4 separate regions of the Homo sapiens genome follow, and regions 2, 3 and 4 are each reported to be linked to region 1. Evidence: microRNA targets listed by miRTarBase, many of them from high-throughput screens and not tested one by one. Region 1 holds a microRNA gene; each other region holds the end of a gene's coding sequence. Distances are from middle to middle.

Region 1 (3,000 bases):
CTTCTGCCCTCTCGTGGCTGGTCTTTAACCTGGGCAGGGCAACAGCTGCTGACTGTGCACAGCATGGGGTCACATGGGATTCGGGGGAAGTACCGGGCACAGAGCAGGCACACCCCAAAAAGCAGGTGCATCCACCAGCCAGGATTCAACCACCTGCTAAACGCCTCAACCGCAAAACAGAGATGTCAAAACAGAGATGCCCCCCACTGGGGGCCCGAAGTCAACCTCCTCTTTTTCTCTTTTCTGAATCTCCCTCCTCTCTTAGACCAGGAGTCCAGGCCCCAGTCTGTCCTGCCTCAGACCCAGGGGTCCAGGCTCCCAGCTTCTCCTCCCTCAGACCCAGGGGTCCAGACCCCCCAGCCCCTCCTCCCTCAGACCCAGGGGTCCAGGCCCAGCCCCTCCTCTCTCAGTCCCAGGGGTCCAGACCCCCAGCCCCTCTTCCCTCAGACCCAGGAGTCCGGGCTCCCAGCCTCTCGTCCCTCAGACCCAGGGGTCCGGGCCCCCAGCCCCTTCTCCCTCAGTCCCAGGAGTCCAGGCCCCCAGCCCCTCCTCCCTCAGTGCTAGAAATCCAGACCCCCAGCCCCTCCTCCCTGAGACCCAGGACTCACGTGCTCCAATTATAGCCTGTGGGCTCTGGGTTGCTGCGAGCATCGCAGGTCAGGGTGGCCTCATTCTGGCCAAGGTACCAGTTGTTATCATAGCCAGAGATGGATACCTCTGGGGGGTCTGCAGGAAATGGATACAGAGGTTCAGAGACTGGGAGGCTTTGGGGGGCCTGGGGCTACGCGGGATTCACGACACTGCAGGAAAAGGCCCGGGGATATTTGGAAAACAGCGGGAGCTGGAGAGGCCTAGGAGGAGTCTAGGTAGATGGGGTGCCACAGAGAGCAGAAGCCTAGGAGTCCTTGGTCAGTGGGGACATGGAGAAGGCTTCTGAGGAGCTGCTTTTCTCCACTAGCTTTCCTGGGTAGCCTGGACCAGGCATGTCTTGGGTGTCCTGCAGGAAAATGCCTCCTCCTTTTCTCACTCATAGGCAATGACCACTCACAACACACAGCAGTGTATTCAAGGTTCTGACAAGTCCTGCAGGAAAGAGTCCCAGATAACCCTGCTCTAGGCTGCTGCTCAGCCATCCCATACGTGATTGACAGCGAAGACCTTTCAATGTCCTTGGGGGCAGGCCAATGGGACAGGGTTTTATTCGGGGGCGAGGGGTAGGAGTCAGTGTAGATCTCCTCCTCGCTCAGACCCAGTGACAGTGTTGAGGGACTCCAGTATAGACAGTACCTGAGGGAATCTGTGTACCAATTGCCTGGCGGGGAGTAAGCAGTATAGACAATGGTGGGAGGAACAGTATGAATGATGTCTAGAAGAGCTTGTGTGGATATTACTGATGGGTTCAGTGTAGACAGGGTGTTGGAATATTACAGCAGATGCTATATTGTCGGGCCAGTGTTGAAAATGTGGTGGTGGGGGTGAGATCACCCCCACATATACAGTGTGTCCCCGGGAGCTGACGAAATTAAGACAGGCTCTGTGTATGTGTGTAGACAGTATTTGGATGAGCCAGTGTAGATGATGTGGGAGCTTAGTCTAGATCTGTGCTGTCCAATATGGCACCTACTGGCCACATGTGACTACTGAGCACTCGAAATATAGCCAGGCCGAAATACACACCAGATTTCAAAGGCTTTACTAGGACAAAATAAATGGGAAAGATCTCAAGAATAATTTTAAAAAAACAATTACAAGTTGAAATAATATTTTAGGTATATTGGGTTAAGTAAAGGCAATTATTAAAAATTAATTTTGGCCAGGCACAGTGGCTCATGCCTGTAATCCCAGTACCTTGGGAGGTTGAGGCAGGAGGATCACTTGAGCCCAGGAGTTTGAGACCAGCCTGGGCAACATAGGGAGATCCTGTCTCCAGAAAAAATAAAAATAGGCCGGGTGCGGTGGCTCACGTCTGTAATCCCAGCAATTTGGGAGGCCAAGGTGGGTGGATCACGAGGTCAGGAGTTTGAGACCAGCCTGGCCAACATGGTGAAATCCCGTCTCTACCACAAATACAAAAATTAGCTGGGCACTGTGGCCAGGGCTTGTAATCCCAGCTACTCGGGAGGCTGAGGCAGGAGAATCACTTGAACCCGAGAGGCGGAGGCTGCAGTGAGTTGAGATCGTGCCACTGCACTCTAGCCTGGGTGACAGAGCAAGACTTCATCACAAAACAAAAAAACAAAAACAAAAACAAAAACAAAAATTAGCTAGGCATGGTGTCACACGCCTGTAGTCCCAGCTACTCAGGAGACTGAGGCTGAGGTGGGAGGATCACTTAAGCCCAGGAGGTTGAGGCTGCAGGGAGCTGTGCCACTGCACTCCAGTCTGGGTGACAGAGTAAGACCCCGTCTCAAATAAATAAATAGATAAATAAATAAACAAATAAATTTCATCTCTTTCTTTTCTTGTTTTTGAGATGGAGTTTTGCTCTGCTGCCCAGGCTGGAGTGCAATGGCGTAATCTCGCTCATTGCAATCTCCGCCTCCCAGGTTCAAGTGATTCTCCTGCCTCAGTCTCCCGAGTAGCTGGGATTACAGGCACCCGCCACCGTGCCTGGCTAATTTTTGTATTTTTTAGTGAAGACAGAGTTTCACCACATTGATCAGGCTGGTCTTGAATGCCTGACCTCAGGTGATCCACCTGCCTCGGCCTCCCAAAGTGCTGGGATTACAGGCGTGAGCCACCGTGCCTGGCCTCTTTCTTTTAATTTTTTAATGGGGTGGCCGCTGGAGAATTTAAAATCCTATATGCAGCTTGCATGCTATTTCTGTTAGACAGCACTGGTTAGAGAGTCCTGGGGCTGTCAGTGGAGATAAATGTGTGGGTGTCAATGTCGATGATGCCATGAGGGAGCTGGTGGAGGTAACGCTGTGCAGGAGAATCAGGACAGATGCTGTCAGGGGGCTGTGCAGACAGAACACAAGGAGGCCAGTGTGGTGATGT
Region 2 (3,224 bases), not on the chromosome of region 1:
TGCCCGGACGGACAGCGTCAAGCGGGAGAGTCGGAGCGGCTCCACCAGAGTGTGTCACGGGAAGATCTACCATGAGCATTCCCGGGGACACAAACAGTGCCCTTACTGCCTCCTCTACAAGTACATGTACATCCACCGGCCGCCCACCCAAATGGAGGCCAAGTCCCCCTTCTACCTGACTGCCAGGAAGGAGGCCACAGACATGGGCAGCGTGTGGTATGAGGAGCAGAGGATGGGGCTGCGCTCTCTTCGGGGAATTGTCCCAAACTTAGCCAAGAAGGTCAAGCTGGAAAACTGTGAGAACTTCACCTTTGTCTCGTTCACTCAGGTCTCCCGGAGGCTTGGCTCCCACAGCTGCTGCCAGTGAGCCCCCACTGGGGCCCGGCCACTGCCCTGTCACCTGCTCGGGCCAGCCAGGGTTGGAGCAGCTGGAGCTCCTTGGAGGCAGGGGCTGACCAGGTGTGACCTCCCGGTCTGGCGGCTCTCCCCTGGTGTGGCCTGCCCTCCCTTTGACTTGGGGTTTGCTTTTTAAAATGAAACTAGATGAGTCTAAATCATTCGGATGGTTTATCCAAATGTGCGTCAACTTCGTTAGCTTTTAGAATCTAACACAATGTATAATTGTTACATACAAGAGTGAGGAAATTCATTTTCTCTAGTGCCTTTCTAGCACAGGTTTTCTCAAAACAAACAAACAAAAAAGGAAACTGTTAAGTAGTCGTTTAAAAAAAAAATCCCAGTAGCGCAGTAGCTTTAGAACGTTAGGAAGACTGTACACTTTGTTGAATTACACTCACAATTAGAAACTAGAGAGAGGCAGACACGTTCCCTATTTCCAGGAGACAGATTGCGCTTGATGCGCCTTTTTTTTCTGTTGGTGGATAAGGTGGTTCTGGAGGGCAGGCAGCCTTGTGTCGGGGAGTATCCTCAAGCGACACTTGGTCATCTGACAAGGACTTGGGCTGCTCCCACGGCTCCCAGCAGCGGTAGGAACCCCATCTCGGCTGTCAATGGAGAGAATTTTATGATAAAAGATTCACGCACCAGAAGGGTGTCTGTGAGAACAAGGCTTCTAGTGAACTAGACAGTTTGTACCATGAGGGAATTTCTAGTAGTGAAGGAAAATGGCTTGGAAAAGCCAATCTGTGATCAAAATGTGAAAACCTCCTGAAGCAGAAGTGCCTATGTTTTATTTCTCAGCACCATGTGAGAGCTCCTTTGATTGGAACATTTTTTGAGGTTTCTGTCTGTTCTTCGTGTCATCCCATTATTCGGTCAGCATATACCACTGGATCTATAAAACAACTAAAGGTAATTTTTAGTCTTAGCCAAGAAAAGCTAACCAAACAAGCTGCAAAAAACACAGATCCCCAAACTTTCTTTATTAAAGAGATTTGGAATATTTTTGTCAATGTATGACTTTTCAGCCACAATTACATGTCATCATTTTAGGATGGCACCAATACTTGGGACACGATGATTTAGGCACCCCACCAGGTAAGCAAACTCAGCATTAAGGATGTAGTTATAAAATTAGCGCATAATGGTAGGTAATGCAGTTTGAAACCATTTCACTCAGGTAAAATGCAACCTGACCACATTATTTAAAAATCAGCAGAATTTTCTAATAACTACTCTGAGTGCAACAACAAGTGAAAAAGGAGCTCAAAGAGTGCTCATTAAGAGTAACAATAATTTCTAGGGACCTTGACTTTGCATTTGAGGAAAATCTTGTGTAACTTTATTCCATTATGCTCCTAATATGCTTTCTAATCCCAAATTAAAACTCTAATACAAATTCATTTTGTAGAAGTCTTAAAATCAGTCCTCTTTCTTTTTGAAAACATTATTTTAGTATTTATTTTAATTAATTGGTTTCTTAAAAAATCATACACTAGTCATTGACATATGTAATACTTCCTTTACCAGAGAAGACTCAACCAATGCTGCCTTAAGATTTAATGTTATTCCCTTTTTAGTCACTGTGCATTTATAAGTTTGTTTACTAGTTGACCTTTCCTGAATAGAGATTAGTTTCGGCATTTCTCCATCTGTATATAAATAACAGGTAATATTTAATCATCAGTGTATGACTTGATATCACATAACGTTCTGGTGTGGTTTCCTGTAGTGATCTTAGGGTTTTGATTTAAAAGAAATACACAAAACATTAGGTACAATTTCCTTTAGTTTGCTAAACACCCAAAGGATATTTTGTTTTGTTGGTTCTGCACTTAAACTGAAATACAACCTATGTGAACTATTGGGCAAAGCCTGCAGCCTAATTAATTAAAACCTCCATTTTTATTTGAATAGATTCAAGTAGAAATTGCCGTTAGGAATCACTGGGATCTTTTCGGATTTTGACCTTTTCAAAGGTAGCAATAACTACTCCAGAGGTTGTAATCTTTCTGTTGGTAGTGGCTTTTCATCAGCTAAATAATCATCTCTGCCTCAAATGTGTTGCCTGTCACCTAGTTGATGTTCCATAAAATCCCTGGGTTCTGAAGTGAATTATTATAATTAATAATCAGGAGGGCGAATCTTCAGTGGCATCTGATGGAATGAAAGAACTGTGTCTGAGCAGCCTAAAAGCTGTTTGTGACATGCCACCTTGGGAAACAAGAGTGAGGAAGAAAACACAGTCATCAAGTGCCAGCGTGTGCCACCCATTGTACTAGGTACTTTATTATGCATTTATGTATATGTGTGTGTGTCTGTGTATACACACAAACACATATACATAAGTGTTTACACACACACACGCACAATATGTGGTTAAGCCTGGTAAGCCTGCTAAAATGGCAAAGCGGCCTGGCGCGTGGCTCACGCCTATAATCCCAGCACTTTGGGAGGCCAAGGTGGGCAGATCACTTGAGGTCAGGAGTTCAAGATCAGGACCAACATGGTGAAACCCCATCTCTACTAAAAATACAAAAATTAGCCGGGCGTGGTGGCAGGTGCCTGTAATCCCAGCTACTTGAGAGTCTGAAGCAGGAGAATTGCTTGAACCTGGGAGGCGGAGGTTGCAGTGAGCCGAGACCATGCCACTGCACTCCAGCCTGGGCAACAAAGCTAGACTCCATCTCAAAAAAAATAAAAAATAAAATGGCGAAGCACCTGTCCATGTGTTTGGCCAAAGCCGTCCTCCGAGGTCTTAAGGGGGCCAGAGTAGCAGTCCTCGTTGGCGTTCTAAGGCAGTTGTTCTGGCTTCCAGTCAGCTC
Region 3 (3,224 bases), 13 Mb from region 1:
TATCCCATGGAAAACACTCCTGCTTTGGGACAAACTGGGGCCTAGGTCCTCAGGCCTGGAAAGAACCCTTTGATGACAGCCAATATGTTTCTAGAGGGGTTTCTCCAACTCTCTTGAACCCAGGGCCTTAGGTACAAGTACAGCCACAGCTACAATACATGCAGCCTTCCAGAGAGAGGATGCAGGAGGGTGGGGGTCCTCAAGAGTCAACTCTCCTTCCCACAGGAGAGGAAACTGTGCACTCTGTCCTGAAAAAACAAAAACAGAGAACTCTTAACTCACCAAGAATTCTATTTATAATATGTGCAAAAGGACCACAGTAAAAGGTACATGCCCACTATGAAAACATGAATATATATGCAGTGCTTTAAAAGGTTGTGAGGAAAGCTCAAAGTGAGAAAATGATAATTTTCTATTTTTCACACGTTTTAACCTAACATTATCTCATGTAGCTTGAAAACTAAAAGAAAATCTCACAAAAGGAATTTCAAATTACCAGATTCAGGCTAAGTACAGTGGCTCACACCTGTAATCCCAGCTTTTTGGCAGGCTGAGGTGGGTGGATCACCTGAGGTCAGGAGTTCGAGACCAGCCTGGGCAACATGGCAAAACCCTGTCTCTACTAAAAATACAAAAATTAGCTGGGCATGGTAGTACATGCCTGTAATCCCAGCTTCTTGGGAGGCTGAGGCAGGAGAATCGCTTGAACCCGGGAGGCAGAGGTTGCAATGAGCCAAGATCGCACTCCTGCACTCCAGCCTAGGCAGCGGAGTGAGACTCCATCTCAAAACACAACAAAACTAATTACCATATTCAGTGCTAGCACCAAGGGACTAAGGTCATGGTGGTTAACTATGAAACTCACGTAAACCTGCCCACGTATATCCTGATTCACCTGTTAAAATGCTAGGCACTTTATTTTGTAGCAAAACTTCACGCAAATGTTTATAAGATCAGACAATGAGATTCCTCTCCATGTTGTTTTCTTGGGTTTACTGGGTTTACCATGGATTCATCTTAGTTGTGTGTTTTATTTTGCCTGTTTTAGCTATAATTCAATCCCTAGAAAAATGCTGAGGGGGACCTAAAAATACCCCTCTACACAGGATTAAAGAATCTGATAAACACCAGAAAGAATTAGGACTCATCTGAGAAGGCCAAGCAAGTACAAAGTGATCACTATGTTGCCAGAGAAAATAAAGACAACAAACAGACAGAATGGAATCAGGAAAATGTGAGAGTGCTGAGCATTTGAAACCATATTAGGCTAGGTGTGGTGGCTCACACCTGTAATCCCAACACTTTAGGAGGCTAAGCAGGATGATGACTTGAGTCTAGCAGTTTGAGACAAATCTGGGGAACACAGCAAGACCTCATCTATACAAAAAAATTTAAGGCTGGGTGCAGTGACTCACACCTGTAATCCCAGAACTTTGGGAGGCCAAGGCAGGTGGACCACTTGAAGCCAGGAGTTCCAGACCAGCCCAGCCAACATGGTAAAACCTTGTCTCTACTAAAATTACAAACATTAGCCAGGCGTAGTGGTGTATGCCTGTATCCCAAGCTACTCAGAAACTTGAGGCAAGAGGACCATTTGAGCCCAGGAGTTCGAGGTTACAGGGAACTATGATCATGCCACTGCACTCTAGCCTGGGTGACAGAGCAAGTCCCTGTCTCTTAAAAAATAATGAGTTTATTAATAAAAATCAAAGCCTTAAACAGTCTTAGGTATTGCACATTTTAATGTGGTGCACATTTTAATGTGGCCATCTGTACATGGGTTCTTCTCACCCTAGATATAAAAAAGAAGTGTCACATGAAGATGTTCTCAGTATTCTAATTTCTACTAAATTCAAGAATCTCATGACACAAGCCTTCATATTTCTCACAAAGAATTACTCTCCTCATGGATATCCTCCCAGAGATGTCTGGATCAAAGGCAACTTCCAAGAAATGCCTGAAGAGCTGCCCTCACTGTCTAACTCTGACAAAGGATGGCAGTGAATGTATGTTAAAAAAAAAAAAAAGGAATAAAACCCCTTTACCTCTCAAACATTCCCCTACCAAAAAATAAAACTGATCTTACAGGGAAGTCTGTAAGGACATAAAGCAAGAAGATACCTGTAACTGAAGGTTTTCATAAGTTCATAGAGAAAATCCCAAGGTGGGTCAAATTCCAGCATGGCTCTTTATAGGACAAGCAAGTGACAACCTGGTCACAAAGTTTTCTCACATCAATAACAATTATGTAGTAACTTTTCATTATGATTCTCAGATAGTAAGATTTCTGCTCTGGCCAAAGACTGTCCTTAATAGTTATATTTGGAATGTCTTTCTCCAGCATGAGTTCTCTGATGTTGATGGAATGCCTTCCACATTTCCCCCTGGTATGAATCCTTCTGCAATGAGTGAGAACTGAGTGGTGACTGAAGGGATCCTTACATTCACTGTATTCACAGGGCTTCTCTCCAAAGTGACTGCTCATGTGTTAGTTAAGAAAGAGCTGACAAAAAAAATGAAAAGTTTCCTGACATTCTTTGCATTCGAAGGACTTCTTCCTACAGTGTGGGTCCCATTATGAATGATAAAATAACAGTGGGTAAAGGCCTTGCTGTATTCATTGCAGCAATAGGGTTCTCTCATGTATGGACCCTTTGGTGCTGCAGAAGGTGTGACCTGCGTTTGAAGGCCTTCCCACACTCGATACACTTGTAGGGCATCTCCCCAGTGTGGATGACAGAGTGCTGAATGAGGTACGTGCTCCGGTGAAAGGCTTTCCCACACTGGGTGCATTCATAGGGCTTCTCCCCAGTGTGAATCCGCTGGTGCTGTATGAGTTCTGAGCTGCATCTGAAGGCCTTTCCACATGCCATGCAATCATAGGGCTTCTCTCCAGTGTGGATGATGTAATGTTGAATTAGGTGGGCTCTATTGCTAAAGGCTTTCTCACATTCTTTGCACTCAAAGGGCTTTTCTCCAGTGTGGGTCCTATTATGGCGAATAAAAGTAGACCGGTGGGTGAAGGCCTTTCGACATTGACTACACTCATAGGGTTTCTCTCCAGTGTGGATTGGATGGTGCTGCATGAGGTACGACCTGCGTTTGAAGGCCTTCCCACACTCAAGGCACTTGTATGGTTTCTCCCCGGTGTGGATGAGGTAGTGCCGAATGAGAGTTGAGCTCTGGCTAAAGGCTTTCCCACATGCATTGCATTCATAGGGTTT
Region 4 (3,224 bases), not on the chromosome of region 1:
AATGAGATTGCTGCATTTTAGATAAAGTTGGGACTAACTTAAAAGTATTTCTGTCATGTGATGAAGGCTGATAGAAAACATGTTAAAATAATATATTTTAAATTGCTCTCAAACATTTTTTTAACGTCGAAGTATTCCTTACTGCTTCTGTCACAGCTTGACGCAGCCTCATTGGCAATGTTATTAGTATGGCTAATTGTTCCTGTCCATTACATTACTCACATTTTTCTGGAGCAGCTTGCTAAATGAGGTCAGCTTTCTGGAACCCCTAAATCACCAATGAGAAGGAGATTAAAGGAACAAGCTTGGGAAGGGGGGTAGTCATCCAATGTGGCACCCGAATCAGAGTAGAAACAATGGAGTTACTAATGACAGTAATCAGAGCACCACAGTAGAGCCAGGGCACAAGTGCCAAAATGATATTCCCTAGGAATCATGACTGTCAGTCAATACATCCAGAGGAAAAGAAATGCCAAACTGTTTTTTTTTTTTTGAAGTGGACTTAACAATAGACAGAATCATCCATAAGTTTTTCCAGTGAGTTGTGTTCATGAAACAACAGAATAGTGCCCCAAAGGGTGGGGGGAGGAAATAATTACACCTTCCTAAATACAGTACAAATAGTGTGTTCTTCAGTACAAATAATCCATTATGCTTTTTCTTGGAAAAATGATGGAAATCATCACAAGATGTTAATAGAACAATTATAAAATGTTACTTCTCTTGGATTCTTTAAATTAATTAACTCATTTCCCTTTGGTACTTCCTAAAGGTGTATAAATTTTTCTGGGACAGTACTAGTTTGCAAGATAAAACTGTTTAGTTCAGAAAAATGTACAGATAACAGAAGACCAAGAAAATAGTAATGTTTTATACATCTTAAATGTATAGACAAACTAAGCTAGGATACTTGTTTATGTCTTGCTTGTTAATAATTATTAAAATCCACCTTTTAAAAAAAGAAATAGAAGAAAACATGTAACAATCATTTTTAAAAATGGAAATAAAAAACCTAAAGGCTAAGCCACTTAAAACAAAGAAAAAAACACACTGTTTGTACTGCCGTCCAGTCCCATATTCCAAATAATGAAATATCAGTTAGGTCTTTTCATTATCTACATAGAACTGGTGACTCCCTGTGCAAGATAAACAGACAAGAGCATATGCCAAGGTAAACTTTTTTCTTTTCTTTTATTCTACATATAGTGTTTAGTATTTTTTAACTCAGCAAAAAAGCAACTACTTTCCCCAAAAATAAAAACAGAATCCCTTTAAGAAGAAATGCAACAATTGCTCTCACTTTCAATACTATTTTATTGCAACTGGATGAATGTTTTCTAAATTGTGCATTACACCATAATATACAGGATTACAAACAAAATTACAGTACAGATCGATTCCAGTGGTACCAGCATCACATCTCAAACAGCACTTATTCTGGACTGCATTTTACATGCAATAGCTATTGTTCTAATTATGAATTAAATGGTTTGAATTTATTTAAGCTACTGTACTAATTGACTACTATAGATATAAATCCCAACATTAACAACCTGATTAGATTTAGGCTCAGATTTATTACATGAATATATGACAAACCACCATTTTTGTGACTATGTATAAAATCATGCATTTATATTTTCTGGAAACATCAATAGCTTCAGATTCTCTGTAAAATCATGGAATGCAAAGGAGTAAAAGACTAAAAAGTAACAGTGCAAATTGTATGTGATAGTCAAGCAGCTTTTGATTTAAAGAAGGGTATGTTGGCATTTATTTATAATATGTATATACAAGCTTGTGCAAGTAATGTGTTGAATTGATATGTTTTGATAGGGAATGTATCTCTTAATTTTTTCTTCTCTTGAAAATTATGATTCTGGTTTTTATTTTAGGGAGACGGAAAGACTTTAAAGTGAAATGAATTGCTCAAATTGTGCAATTTTTTTTTTTTTTTTTTTTTTTTTTTTTTTTTTACAATTGGAGAGGAAAGAAGTGCTAAGGCAACACAATAACTTTCTAAGCACTTTTCTGCTGGTTTAAATTAGTTAAATTATTTTGTATAAATTAGATATAATTCTACTTTTCTGATATGTATAAAAATTGATGAAGCTGCATGGTTTTAAAATAGGAAATCCACATTATAAAAAGTCATTAAAAATTCTGTACAAAATCACAACAAAATAATTCAGCATGGGAAAGGTAACAAGTAGTAAAATGCTGGTTGAAAAATATATATTTATATATATTTTAATTGGCCCATTACTAGTTTAAAAATTGCATAGATCCTAATTATTGCTTGTGATTTTGTTATCCCGATCAGATAATTAATACGATCTGAATACAGCCACACCAAATTCGTGGTGTATTTTTTAAACTTTACTGTATTTTTTTATTTTTTAAATAGAAGAGCTATAGAAAATAATACATAAGGTGAACAGGAACTTTGATCCCCTGTTTCTTCCAAAGGCAGTAATGACAATAAATACATATATCACTTGAAGCTTGGAGTATTTGCACTTTGCAGCAGTAGTACCCAAAGGGCTGCCTTTTGTAAACACGACAGTCACTGTAAGCACAGTGGGTTCGTTTCCCGGAAATGGTGAAACTGGCGTGCCTCTAATCATGAAATATGGCATTGAGCTGGGCACTCATGACTCGCTCATGATGTGAATGGCTATCGAAGGACATAATATTGTCTATGGGGATCTCGCAGCGAGGGGCAGCGGTGCCTGAGAAGATTGATCCGTGGCTTTGGGCCCCTGCCAGTGTCGCTGCAGGATAGTGCATGGTAAAGGCATAATTTTTCTCAAACTCGGCGGACGGTTCGTGTTTGAAAGAGAAGTTGCCATTGATGCTGAGCGGCGGGCTGAGGGGTCCATCAAAGGAAGGGCTGGTGCAATCAGTCAGAGGGCTTTCAAAGAAGGGCTCCAGCGCTGCGCTGTAGGCGTGCGGCGGAGGCTTAACGTGGAAGACATGGGAGCTGTCCATGGTACCGTAAGGCGGACTGGGCAGCCCAGGCGACTGGTAGGAGTAGGGGTGTACAGGGAAGGAAGCGCTGGCCGTCGGCAGGTGGGGGGGCATGTCCTGGTTCTGCTCAGGCAGAAAAGTCCGAGGATTGAGTTGCAGGCAGCCCGCAACCAGGTTGGTGGTGGGTTGGGATAAGCCCTTGCAAAGCGTCTGAACGAAGGAGACCAGGTCTGGGCTTTTGCCTGAGCGCAGGA

Evidence for each region. The annotated mature microRNA hsa-miR-4531 reads AUGGAGAAGGCUUCUGA and lies in region 1 at 921-937, shown strand. An mRNA with a match to its seed (bases 2 to 7 or 8) in the 3' UTR can be bound and repressed. Matches are read on the target gene's strand: a 7mer-m8 pairs with bases 2 to 8, a 7mer-A1 pairs with bases 2 to 7 and ends in A, and an 8mer does both.
Region 2: the mRNA of KIAA1958 is a reported target of hsa-miR-4531. Seed matches in the 3' UTR shown: 7mer-m8 at 2,044-2,050.
Region 3: miRTarBase lists ZNF550 as a target of hsa-miR-4531. The part of its 3' UTR that is shown has no 7-base or 8-base seed match.
Region 4: miRTarBase lists NEUROD1 as a target of hsa-miR-4531. Seed matches in the 3' UTR shown: 7mer-A1 at 1,981-1,987.

What each region holds. Positions count from the first base shown.
Region 1 is chr19:44,651,626-44,654,625 of GRCh38, reverse strand. It overlaps MIR4531 (microRNA 4531), which reads left to right and starts at 894; the gene lies at 894-940. It overlaps PVR (PVR cell adhesion molecule), which reads right to left. Exons shown (of 8, transcript NM_006505.5): 4 at 609-726.
Region 2 is chr9:112,659,703-112,662,926 of GRCh38, forward strand. KIAA1958 reads left to right here. Exons shown (of 4, transcript NM_133465.4): 4 at 1-3,224. The coding sequence ends at 367. Among named protein-coding and RNA genes, the nearest start is that of INIP, 57 kb to the right of the region's middle. RefSeq lists a silencer at 793-993.
Region 3 is chr19:57,544,336-57,547,559 of GRCh38, forward strand. ZNF550 (zinc finger protein 550) reads right to left here. Exons shown (of 4, transcript NM_001397372.1): 4 at 1-3,224. The coding sequence ends at 2,640. Among named protein-coding and RNA genes, the nearest start is that of ZNF550, 14 kb to the right of the region's middle.
Region 4 is chr2:181,675,171-181,678,394 of GRCh38, forward strand. It overlaps NEUROD1 (neuronal differentiation 1), which reads right to left. Exons shown (of 2, transcript NM_002500.5): 2 at 1,297-3,224. The coding sequence ends at 2,620. Among named protein-coding and RNA genes, the nearest start is that of NEUROD1, 3.7 kb to the right of the region's middle.